Linked DNA regions of Homo sapiens: region 2 is linked to region 1. Evidence: fine-mapped expression QTL. A gene starts in region 1. The other region holds a variant in brackets. All regions are shown on one strand. Distances are from middle to middle.

Evidence for each region. PIP is the estimated chance that this variant, and not a neighbour inherited with it, causes the effect.
Region 2: its variant is fine-mapped to the expression of RHOB in whole blood (TOPMed, PIP above 0.99).

The regions. Positions count from the first base shown.
Region 1 is chr2:20,444,645-20,449,644 of GRCh38, reverse strand. It overlaps RHOB (ras homolog family member B), which reads right to left and starts at 2,571. Exons shown (of 1, transcript NM_004040.4): 1 at 205-2,571. The coding sequence starts at 2,179. The coding sequence ends at 1,589. RefSeq lists silencers at 2,153-2,362, 2,613-2,862.
Region 2 is chr2:20,422,443-20,427,963 of GRCh38, reverse strand. LOC105373465 (a long non-coding RNA gene) reads left to right here and starts at 3,019. Exons shown (of 5, transcript XR_001739317.2): 1 at 3,019-3,212; 2 at 3,425-5,136. RefSeq lists enhancers at 2,855-2,904, 2,965-3,124, 5,258-5,521. The variant G/A (reference allele first, on the strand shown) is at 2,968.

The DNA.
Region 1 (5,000 bases):
CCTCTAGGAATGTGACAGGAACAACCTGGTCTCCCTTGGTCACCCAACCCCCACATGCTCTCAAAGGGACTTCATCCTCATTTACTACATTTGCTATAAGGGAAACGGAGTTGGCAAGAAAGGATCTCGCCTAGGAGAATATCTCCCTTGTTCCAAATTCACAAGGGTATTTTTACACACTATTAAACCACAAGAGCCATTTTATAAATGTCATCATCATAGTCTTTTAATATTTTACATAAAAAACTGTATACACAGCTTATAGAACTTTTATGTAAACATCATAAGCTCACCATTTTGTCATTTGTCAGTTTATTTAAAAAATAAAAAACAAGACAACAATTTAGTAGAAGTACCACTGGGAGGGAGGGGAGGGGAAAAAAGGATATACAGGGGCAGGTGTATTCTCTGTACAGAGGTGCAGAGAAAATTTCACATAGCTTTAGAGAATGCCTTGTGGAAAAAAAAAAAATAGGCCCCAATACTTGTTACTGCCCTTTATCAAAACTGTGTGCATGACCTGCACAAATAAAATCACAAAACAGTGTTGCCACATTCTTCAAGGAAACAAAGCAAAATTTAGTGGGTTTCTTTTCCCTCTCCTTGTTAAAAGTCATTTTTTAAAAACATCAGAAGTAGATGAGGTTACAGCGTACAAGTGTGGTCAGAATGCTACTGTCGTATGCAAATGACGAGTGCATTAAGTGTCAAACAATGAAACAATTGTGCAAAGAATAAAAAAACAAATTTTAGCCTTTAAATAAATCAAATAACATCAGTTTCTTGGACTGAACAATTTTCACTTCTAGGACAGGCACAAAGTTCGCTTATGGCAAAAACAACCCCACAGCGCATCCTCCCTCCTCCCTCCGGTAGCTGGTGGAGGGTTCGCAGCGGGCTGGCCCGCAGGAGAGGCTGTGCTGAAGCTGTGTCCTCCCCAAGTCAGTTGCAAATGTCTTCCCCAGGGGTTGGAAAGATGGTCAAGTCCTGTTCATGCTTGGGCGGGAGTCTGGCCCAGCCTGGGCCAGAGCGCTCACCCATCACCACCCTTAAATAACACCATCTTAGCTCCGAAAATAAAATTATATCTATATTTATATAACATCCCCCCATCCTCCCCAGCAGCCCTCCCCTCCCGCAGTACCCGGGGTCTATGTTACAGACAAGGGATATCAAGCTCCCGCTGGTGAAGGGCGAACATCTGATGGGGCGCGGCCACACTCCCGCGCCAATCTCGCCCCCGGGGATCAGAGGCGGGGGTGGGGTGAAAATGGGGCGAGGGGAGTCGAACAGACACACAGCCACACACTCTGAGGCCCGGCTCTTCAGAAAAGCATGCTCAGGGGACCCTTGGCACTCAGTGGGGAGCCCAGGCCTGTGCAACACAGCTGGACGCACACAGACACTGGGATGGGGGCGCCCGGTGCCCACGCCAAGTCCTGGCGCAAGCCAGAGGCGTCAGCAGACAGATGCCAGGCAGGCCGGTGGGGTCCTTGTGGGACACGGGTCTCCCCTTCTCCGGGCTCGCGGGGGACTGGTCCAGGAGGGGGAGCCGTGCCGGCAGGGGCAGGCGCGACGGGCGCGGCCCTCATAGCACCTTGCAGCAGTTGATGCAGCCGTTCTGGGAGCCGTAGCGCTTCTGCAGCGCGGCGCGCGTGGCCGTCTCGAAGACCTCGCGCACGCCTTCCTTGGTCTTGGCAGAGCACTCGAGGTAGTCGTAGGCTTGGATGCGCACGGCCATGGCGCGGCCGTCATCCGTGCGCACGGGTTCCTGCTTCATGCGGGCCAGCTCTGTGCGGACATGCTCGTCGCTGCGCAGGTCTTTTTTGTTGGCCACCAGGATGATGGGCACATTGGGACAGAAGTGCTTCACCTCGGGGACCCACTTCTCGGGGATGTTCTCCAGCGAGTCCGGGCTGTCCACCGAGAAGCACATGAGAATGACGTCGGTGTCCGGGTAGGAGAGCGGCCGCAGGCGGTCGTAGTCCTCCTGGCCCGCCGTGTCCCACAGCGCCAGCTCCACCTGCTTGCCGTCCACCTCAATGTCGGCCACATAGTTCTCGAAGACGGTGGGCACGTACACCTCGGGGAACTCGTCCTTACTGAACACGATCAGCAGGCACGTCTTGCCACACGCGCCGTCGCCCACCACCACCAGCTTCTTGCGGATGGCCGCCATGAGCGGGCCGGGCCCGGGCAGCAGGAGGGGGCCCGCGAACGCCTCGCTGCCCTCCCGCTCGCCGCTCACTGCTCACCTCGGGCTGCGCGCAGGTGGCGAGAGGGTCGCTAGCTGCACCCGGGCCCCGCGGTGGCGCGTTCTCTCGCTGCGCTTCGGCTGCCGCGGCGGGGGCGGTGGGGGCGCGGGGGCATAGGGCGCACCGTGCGTCTCGCCGCGCTGCTCCCGGGCGGTGGTCGCTCTGCTCACCCCAGGCCGGGGATCGGCGGCTTTGTGCGTAACGCGGGCTCGGGCAGCAGACTCGGGCGGTGGACTCGGCCTAGCTCTCTCCCGGGTCTCTCCGGGCCTCGCTGAGCATACAAGACAACAGCTCCAACCAGACTGCGGTGGCAGATGAGGGCTGCGGCCCTAGCGCCCGCTATTTAAAGAGTCCGGCCACTTTCTTAATATAGCCGTCCAATGGGAAACCAGCCGGCTGAGCTCATCGCTGCGGAGCTTAGCTCTGATTGGCCGCCCCCTGCAGCCCGAGGGCGGGGCAGGGCCAGCTTGATTGACGGCCCAGGCCGCCGGGCTGGGAGAGGCAGCGACCGGGGAGTCCGCGCTGCTGCTGCCGCTGCGGGGCTCTGGCGGTACCCGGGTCCCCTCCTTCGCCGCAGCGTTTGCGCGCGGGGTCCGGGAGCTGGCTGTCTGGAGCCTCCAGGGTCTGGGCGAGCGGTTCCGAGACAGGCTTCACTCAGTGGGGCGTTGGCGACTCCCATTCAGAATTGCCCCTCTTCCTGGCAAACTCCCGGCGGGTGGTCGGGCCTGTGGGGGAGGGGCAGCTCTTTTAACGTGGTTTTGTTTTTAAATAAACAGACACACACACACACACACACACACACACACCCCACACACACACTTTTGTTCCCAAACAAGAGTGTTTTCTCTTTTCTTTTGGAGGTGGCCCCTCCTGTGGTTTAGGGCCCCACCCGGGTACTCGCCGTGGGCCAGCCTCGGGTTTGGACCCGAGAGGCGACCGGCTGGCTGCAAACTGGCTCTTCCAAGTCCCGCCGCCCCTACCCTTCCCAACCCCCAGCTTAGGTCTCTAGGTGAAGATTAAGGGAAGAGGTGCGGAGTGGCCCAAGCTTGACAACGGAAAGGGAAGGTCGAGGCTCGAACACTTGGAGGAAGTTACCGGACAGGAAGAAGCCCCTTCGGCCCCTCTTTTCACTATGAACTCTGATCCCGGTTCTTAAAACAGAGAACTGTCTGAGATAAATTGTACAATAGAATATACACTATTGTACAATAGAATGTACAATAGAATATACACTATTGTACAATAGAATGTACAATAGAATATACACTATTGTACAATAGAATGTACAATAGAATATACACTTGTACAATAGAATGTACAATAGAATATACACTATTGTACAATAGAATGTACAATAGAATATACACTATTGTACAATAGAATGTACAATAGAATATACACTATTGTACAATAGAATGTACAATAGAATATACACTATTGTACAATAGAATGTACAATAGAATATACACTATTGTACAATAGAACGTACAATATTCCGGGTTCAATAGAATCCAACCACCCCAAGACCCCTGAGCAGACGAAAAGGCTTGAGGCTGGAGAAGAGGGGAGGAGTAAGGGGCTAGCAAATGGGGCACAGCGGGTTAGGGGGTGTCCCCTCTATTGGGGCGTAGCCTCCTGATGCACGCCAGGACTGAACTCATTTATCCTGTAGATCCTGCATGAAATGACAGTACCGGTGATCCGGAAAGACCCAAGTCAACCGATTTCTACGGATAAAAGAGGAAGAAGGGGATAGGGGGAAAGGGGAGTCGGGGAGGGCTCCCGGGCAGGAGAAACAGCCTGAACACAAGCAGGAAGGTGGGAAGGAGCGGGGCAAACTCTAGGAGCTGCATATGCTGGGGCTCATGAGTGCTAAAGTATTAACAGCATGGGCTGGGCTCTGTCTATCCATTGCATGGGAAATGTCTGCAAACTGTTTTTTCAGCAAAGGAGGGACCCACCACATGACCGGGAGGTGGTTGCCTCCTGTCTCCGTCTCTGTCTCGGTCTCTGTCAGTTGTTGGAGGGCCAGGATTCTGTCTTATCTCCGCATCTTGAAGACCCAGCACAATGCCTGGCATTTACAAGGATCAGTAAATGACTGTGGGGAATTAACCCGAATGCTCAGAAACGCAGGTGGAATTTTCTGGGGGTTTCTTACCTCAGTTCCACACTTCGCTTTAACAATTATCTAACCAGGCCGGGCACAGTACCTCATGCCTGTGATCCCTGGGCGTGGGAGGCCCAGGCTGGAGAATTGTTTGAGCTCAGGAGTTCAAGACCAGCCTGGGTAACATGACAAAACCCCGTCCCTGTCCCTGAGAAAAATAAAATGGGATGGCGTGGGGAGGAGAGTGGCCTGCACCTATAATCTCAACTACTCAGGAGGCTGAGGTGGGAGGATTGCTTGAGCCCAGGAGGGCAAGGCTGCAGTGAGCTATGATCACAACACCCCACTCCAGCCTGGGTGACAGAATGAGACCCTGGCTCAAAAGAAAAAAAAAAAGTAAACATTAAAAAGAAAATCATTAAGCAAACCCATGCAGCCAACTGTGACTGAACCCCGGTGTTTTCACATGTAATTCATATGTTAAGAGCTAGGTCCCCATATGGCTCCACAGATGAAATCAGATCAAATAAGGCAGTAGTGCTGCTAAGCCTAGAGCCCTTCCTAGAGGGAACGTCTTATTTAGACGACTGGAAGTGCTGTGCTTCCCTCAGACTGGATTCACATCACTACAACAA
Region 2 (5,521 bases), 22 kb after region 1:
CTTTCCCACCCTTCTAGTGACACATGATTTCCAGATGTCCGTGGCCACAAAAGGGAGTAAATATATAATTTTAACAACTACCCACCCCCCGCCCAATTCGTATTCCATCCTTGCAATTTCCCTGGAAGCCCAGGCTTAAGCTTTTTGTCTTTCAGATGAGGAAACTGAGGCCTAGAGTGGTAGAGACTTGTTTATGAATGCTATACAGTGGGAGACAGAACCAGCAAGAAAACCAGGAGCCTTGGACTGAGCAGTAAAATGTTTTAGAAACAGGGAAAGTCGGGTAGAGTGGAGGAGAGCATGGTAGAGGGTGCCCAAGTAGATTAACAGCCAGCTCCAGCCTGGCTGACTAGAGGAAGATATGACTCTAAAAGTTGCCTGATTAAACCAAGGTCATTGTATTAGTCAGTTATCATGCTACTAGGAAGAAATACCTGAGACTGGGTAATTTATAAAGAAGAGAGTTTTCATTGACTCACAGTTCTACACGGCTGGCTGCGGAGGCCTCAGAAAACTTATACAGTCACGGTGGAAGGCACCTCTTCACAGGGCAGCAGGAGGGAGAATGAGTGCCAAGCTAAGGGGGGATGCCCCTTATAAAACCATCAGATCTCGTGAGAACTCACTATCACGAGAACAGCATGGGGAAAACCACCCCCATGACTGAATTATTTCCACCTGGTTCCACCCTTGACACATGGGGATTATTACAGCTCAAGGTGAGATTTGGGTGGGGACACAGAGCCAAACCATATCAGTCATCCCTTAGCACATGGAAGTGGATGGTGTGGCTCGGGCAATCCTCAAGACTCTGCCTCAACCCTCATCTCCCTCTACACTCCCCCCTCACCCCAAAATCCAGGCTATTTAGAAGACCAAGTGTTTGACACCCACTTATAGTAGATGAAACCAAATTAGGTGCTCAATGAAACCCAAGAATATTCCAATAAAAGATAAGAGAACTAAGTCAAGGACTTTGAGCTCCCTTTTCTCTAATGTTCATTTTAAAAGCAGCAAACTTAACTCTTAGCAGAATCACCTGCAGGGTTTTCCCAAACTCAGATTCTGAGCCTCGCTCCCAGGGTTTCTGATCCAGTAGGTCTGATCAGGGCCCAAGAAAATGCACTTTTCTCACAAGGTCCAAGGTGATGCTGTGGTCAGCATCACCAGAGAAGCAGAACCAATAGATGCATGTGTGTGTGTGTGTGTGTATGTGTGTGTGTGTGTGTGTGTGTGTAAAAAGATTATTTATAAGAAATTGGGCTCAGTGCAGTGCTTCATGCCTGTAATCCCAGCACTTTGGGAGGCCGAGGTGGGAGGATCACTTGAGCCCAGGAGTTTAAGACCAGCCTGGACAACATGGCAAAACCCCATCTCTACAAAAAAATATACAAAAATTATCTGGGCATAGCTGGGCATAGGCCCAGCCACTCAGGAGGCTGAGGTGAGAGAATCACCTAAGCCCAGAAAGTCAAGGTTGTGGTGAGCCATGATGGCACCACTGCACTCTATCCTGGGCAACAGCGTGAGACCTTGTCTCAAAGATAAGCATATATATATTTCTTTGGAAAGCCAGGCTTTCCAGAAAAAAATTGGCTCACAATTATGGAGGCTGACAAATCCTAAATCTGTAGTCAGGAAGATGGAGACCCAGGAGAGTTACTGGTGTAGTTCCAGTCTAGAAGTCTGCAGGCTGAAGACCTAGGAGGAGCTAATGTTTCAGTTTGAGTCTGAGAACTTAAAAAAAAAATGATGTCCCAGCTCAAAAGCAGTCAAGCAGGAGGCATTCTCCCTTACTTGTGGCAGGGTCAGCCCTTTGTTCTATTCAGGCCTTCAACTGATTGGATGGCGCCCACCCACACTGGGGAGGACAATTTTTATTCAGCCTGACATTTCAAATGTTAACATCAGCCAGATGTGGTGGCTCACGCCTATGATCCTAGCACTTTGGAAGGCTGAGGAGGCAGGCTGCCTGAGGCCAGGAGTTCAAGACCAGCCTGGGTAACATGGTGAAACCCTTCTCTACTAAAAATACAAAAAATTAGCTGAGCATGGTAGTGTGTGTCTGTAGTCCCAGCTACTCAGCAGGCTGAAGCGCGAGAATCGCTTGAACCTGGGAAGTGGAGGTTGCAGTGAGCTGTCTTTAAAAAAAAAAAAAAGTTAACATCATGTTAACATCATCCAGAAACATCTTCACAGAGACACCTAGAATAACATTTGGCCAGATATCCAGGCACCCCATCGCCCAGTCAGGTTGACTCATAAAATTAATTATCACGGATGCTGCTGCTGCTGCTGCTGCTGCTGCTGTGTGACCAAACTTTGAAAATCACTGCTTGGGAGTGTCTGCCTCTCTTTGAGGTGGGGTTAAATCATTATCTCCCCATCTCACAACCTACAGGGGGAACACCTATGATCACAGGACAGGAGTCACAGCAGGATAGACACAGCCAGCCACAGTGGCCAAGCTTGACTGGCTGGCAGACTGTTGGGGGCATAGAGTCTTCGGCTGAGTGGCTGGAATCCTGTGTTGCTCATCATCAGATCCCAAAAGACACTTCATCTCCCTGGGCTCCAGCTTCATTTAGGATCCGCAGATAATACACAGGAACTACTAACACTAAAACATTATTTGCTATTTATCTGAAATTCAAATTTAACCTGCATCCTTTTTCTCTTTTTTCTTTCTTCTTCTTTTTTTTTGCTAAATTTGGCAACAGGGCAGGCCACTGCTGCTGTCATTAGAAAGACTCATTTCAGCCCAGGCAAGGGGAGGAGAGCAAACCCAGAGATGGTAACCTGCTCCCCTGAACCAGAGGAAGCAGAGACCTTCTCACAAGGACCAGGCGAGGGATGTGAGTCGGCCTGAAGGGAGGGTGGGAGATGTCCGGGCTCACTTAACCACAGAAGGGTGGACCTCTCAGACCAACACTGACACCAGCAGTAAACAGGAAATGCCCTCCAACC[G/A]CAGGCCTCCTGCTCTTCCTGCCAGGGTCGAGAAGATTCTAATCCAGATTCAGAAGAGGAGCTGACTGGCCTCTGGCAAGCCCAAGCTGGATTACCAGCTGCGGAGGCAGAGGTGCCTGAGGTTTCCCAGCCCCCAGGCCAGAGGAGGCTGCTACACCCACTTCCCCCACGAAGCTGGGGCCCAGGCCAGAGAGAGAGCCCCAAAGCTGGTTTGGGGGCGGGGAGCTTCCCTACAGGCCCTGGAGGTACCAGGAGTGGGTGAGGTGCGGGGTGGGTGGCCTCCACAGTCCGGGTACACAGTTTGTCTGGGAGATTTCCTGGTTGCTGGTATGGGGGGGAGGTGTTCTTGTAGCTGCTGCAGGAACCTCTCCCTGTGAGCTCCATGGATGGGAAGTCGGGGTGTGGAGTGTGTAGTACTAGAATCTGCCATCTCCAGCTCTGTGCCTGTTTCCCCCAGCCCCATAGGCCCCAAGACAAAGCAAGAGGAATGAGAGGAAGCACAGCCGGGTCAAAGCTCCGAGCCACGAGTACTGAGGCAGGTGGTGGTACCCAGACCCCCTCTCCATAGCTCCCATGAGAGCACAAGGCGGAGGAGAGGACAGACTCCTGGCCTGAGGGGCCAAGCACCAGCTTCTCAGCCAGCTCTGCCACTGACTTGCTGCTTGGCAAGTCACTTAACTGTTCCAAGCCTCAGTTTTCACTTCTGGAAATGGGGATATGACCCCCTGCCTGCCCCCTCATGCTGGCATAAGAATCAATGACCTGTGACAGGACTTTGTAAATTATAAGTTGGTATTAGTTAGGCCTCTTTAGTCACAAATGTGAGAAACTGACATTAAATGAGGCAATGCAAAAGGGGGATTCACCAGCTCAGAGGCCCAAGACCCAGGGCAGGGAGAGGAGGCGCTGTCATTCCCTCTCACCCCTGCATCTCTCTGCAAGTCAGTCTCTTCTTCCGCAAGCCTGGAGCCAACTTCACCTCCTAAGAGGAGCTTCTCTGCTCTGTCACTACCAACTTGAACAACCACAGGGAGGGCCCTGAATTGTGTCACATGTCCACCCATGGCTGTGAGACACTATCTTATGCAGCTTCTTCTGGAAGCTTCTTATTTTGATTGTTGGCATCAGCATTATAAGTTTGCCACATTTTCCTGATTCCTATCCTCCTTGGACAAAATAACATAGGGGCTAAGGGCACAGGCTCTGGAACCCAGATTACCTGGATTCAAGTTCTGGTTCTGCCATTTTCTCACTGTGTAACGTTGGGCAAGTCGCTTAACTTCTCTGCACCTCAGTTCATAAATCTGTGAAAACTAAATGAGTTGATACATGGGAAGTATGAACAATTGTGCCTGGTGCCGGCCAGGGGTTCAACAAATGTTAATCATTATTATTGTCGGAGAATGAAGGGGCAGTGCCTGGGAATCCCAGGATGAGAGACAGCCTGAAGAAAAACCATCCTGCTCCACCTACTCCTCAACCTTCTTCCGGGGAGAGCTGACAACTGCAGGAGCTATGGCTCAACAAAGATGTACAGAGCTATGCAGTAAGCCCTGAGAATTACAAAACTTGACAGACAAAGTCGCTTTTTCTCCAGAAGCTCATTGCCAAGTAAGGGAGATAGAAGCATGAAGAGATCATTTCTATCCTGTGCTGGATAGAAGCGTGTGTATGTCTCTGTGGGAAGCCACAGTGGGACAACTGGTCCAGAGAGAGCTGCCTGGAAGAAATGACACCTGAGCTAAGGCCTGGAGCAGGGGCAAGAGCTTGCCAAGCAAGGAAAGGAGGGCAGGGCGTTGTGCTGTCCATTGGCTATTCAGTCTCGGCTCCAGATCTCCACTTGTCAGGTTGGCGCTACTGGGGCTTGATCTGTGCAAATTACATGTCCCCAGGTCAGCTGGTTCTGGCAGGTTCTTCCAATAGGGGGCACTAGGAGACTGAGGTCAGGAGGAGAGAAGGCACTTGCTCTTTTGTGCTTGCTTGCTTCTCCCCAGCAAGCTTTTTGCCGCAGAAGCATCCACTGAAGCCTCCAGCTTTCTTCAGCCTCAGCAGCTGGAAGCCATGTGAAGCAGCTGACAAACAGCTGGAGGCTGAGATGCCTGCTGTGGGGGGAGCAACAGTTTAAACCAGTGAGCATGTAGCATCGGAAAGCTTCCCGATGGATGATAGGTAAGGTCGGGTATGCAGATGGCCTTCCTGTGCAGGGCTGGGGACCAGAAAGAGGCAGCTAGGGGCAGGGGCCAGCCCCAGGGCAGGTTCAGAACCAAGACCCCATGTTGTGGGAGAATGGGGCCCATCAGGTGGGGCCTGGGCCCAGGGAGCTCTGGTGCAGATGCATGGAACTAAAGCACCCAAAACCTCCTCTGAGTTCCCAGCACTGATGGTGTTTTCAGAGATCATCGTGGCTCCCAGCCCGGGGAAGCCAGACTCAGGGCCAGGACTCTGAGTGGGGGGTTAGGAGAGGCGGCAGCTCTAAGGATGGAAGTTGGTGCTGACAGCAAGGGGCTGGCTCTATCCTCTGAGTATCTGGGAGCCATCATGGATCAAGGTCTCA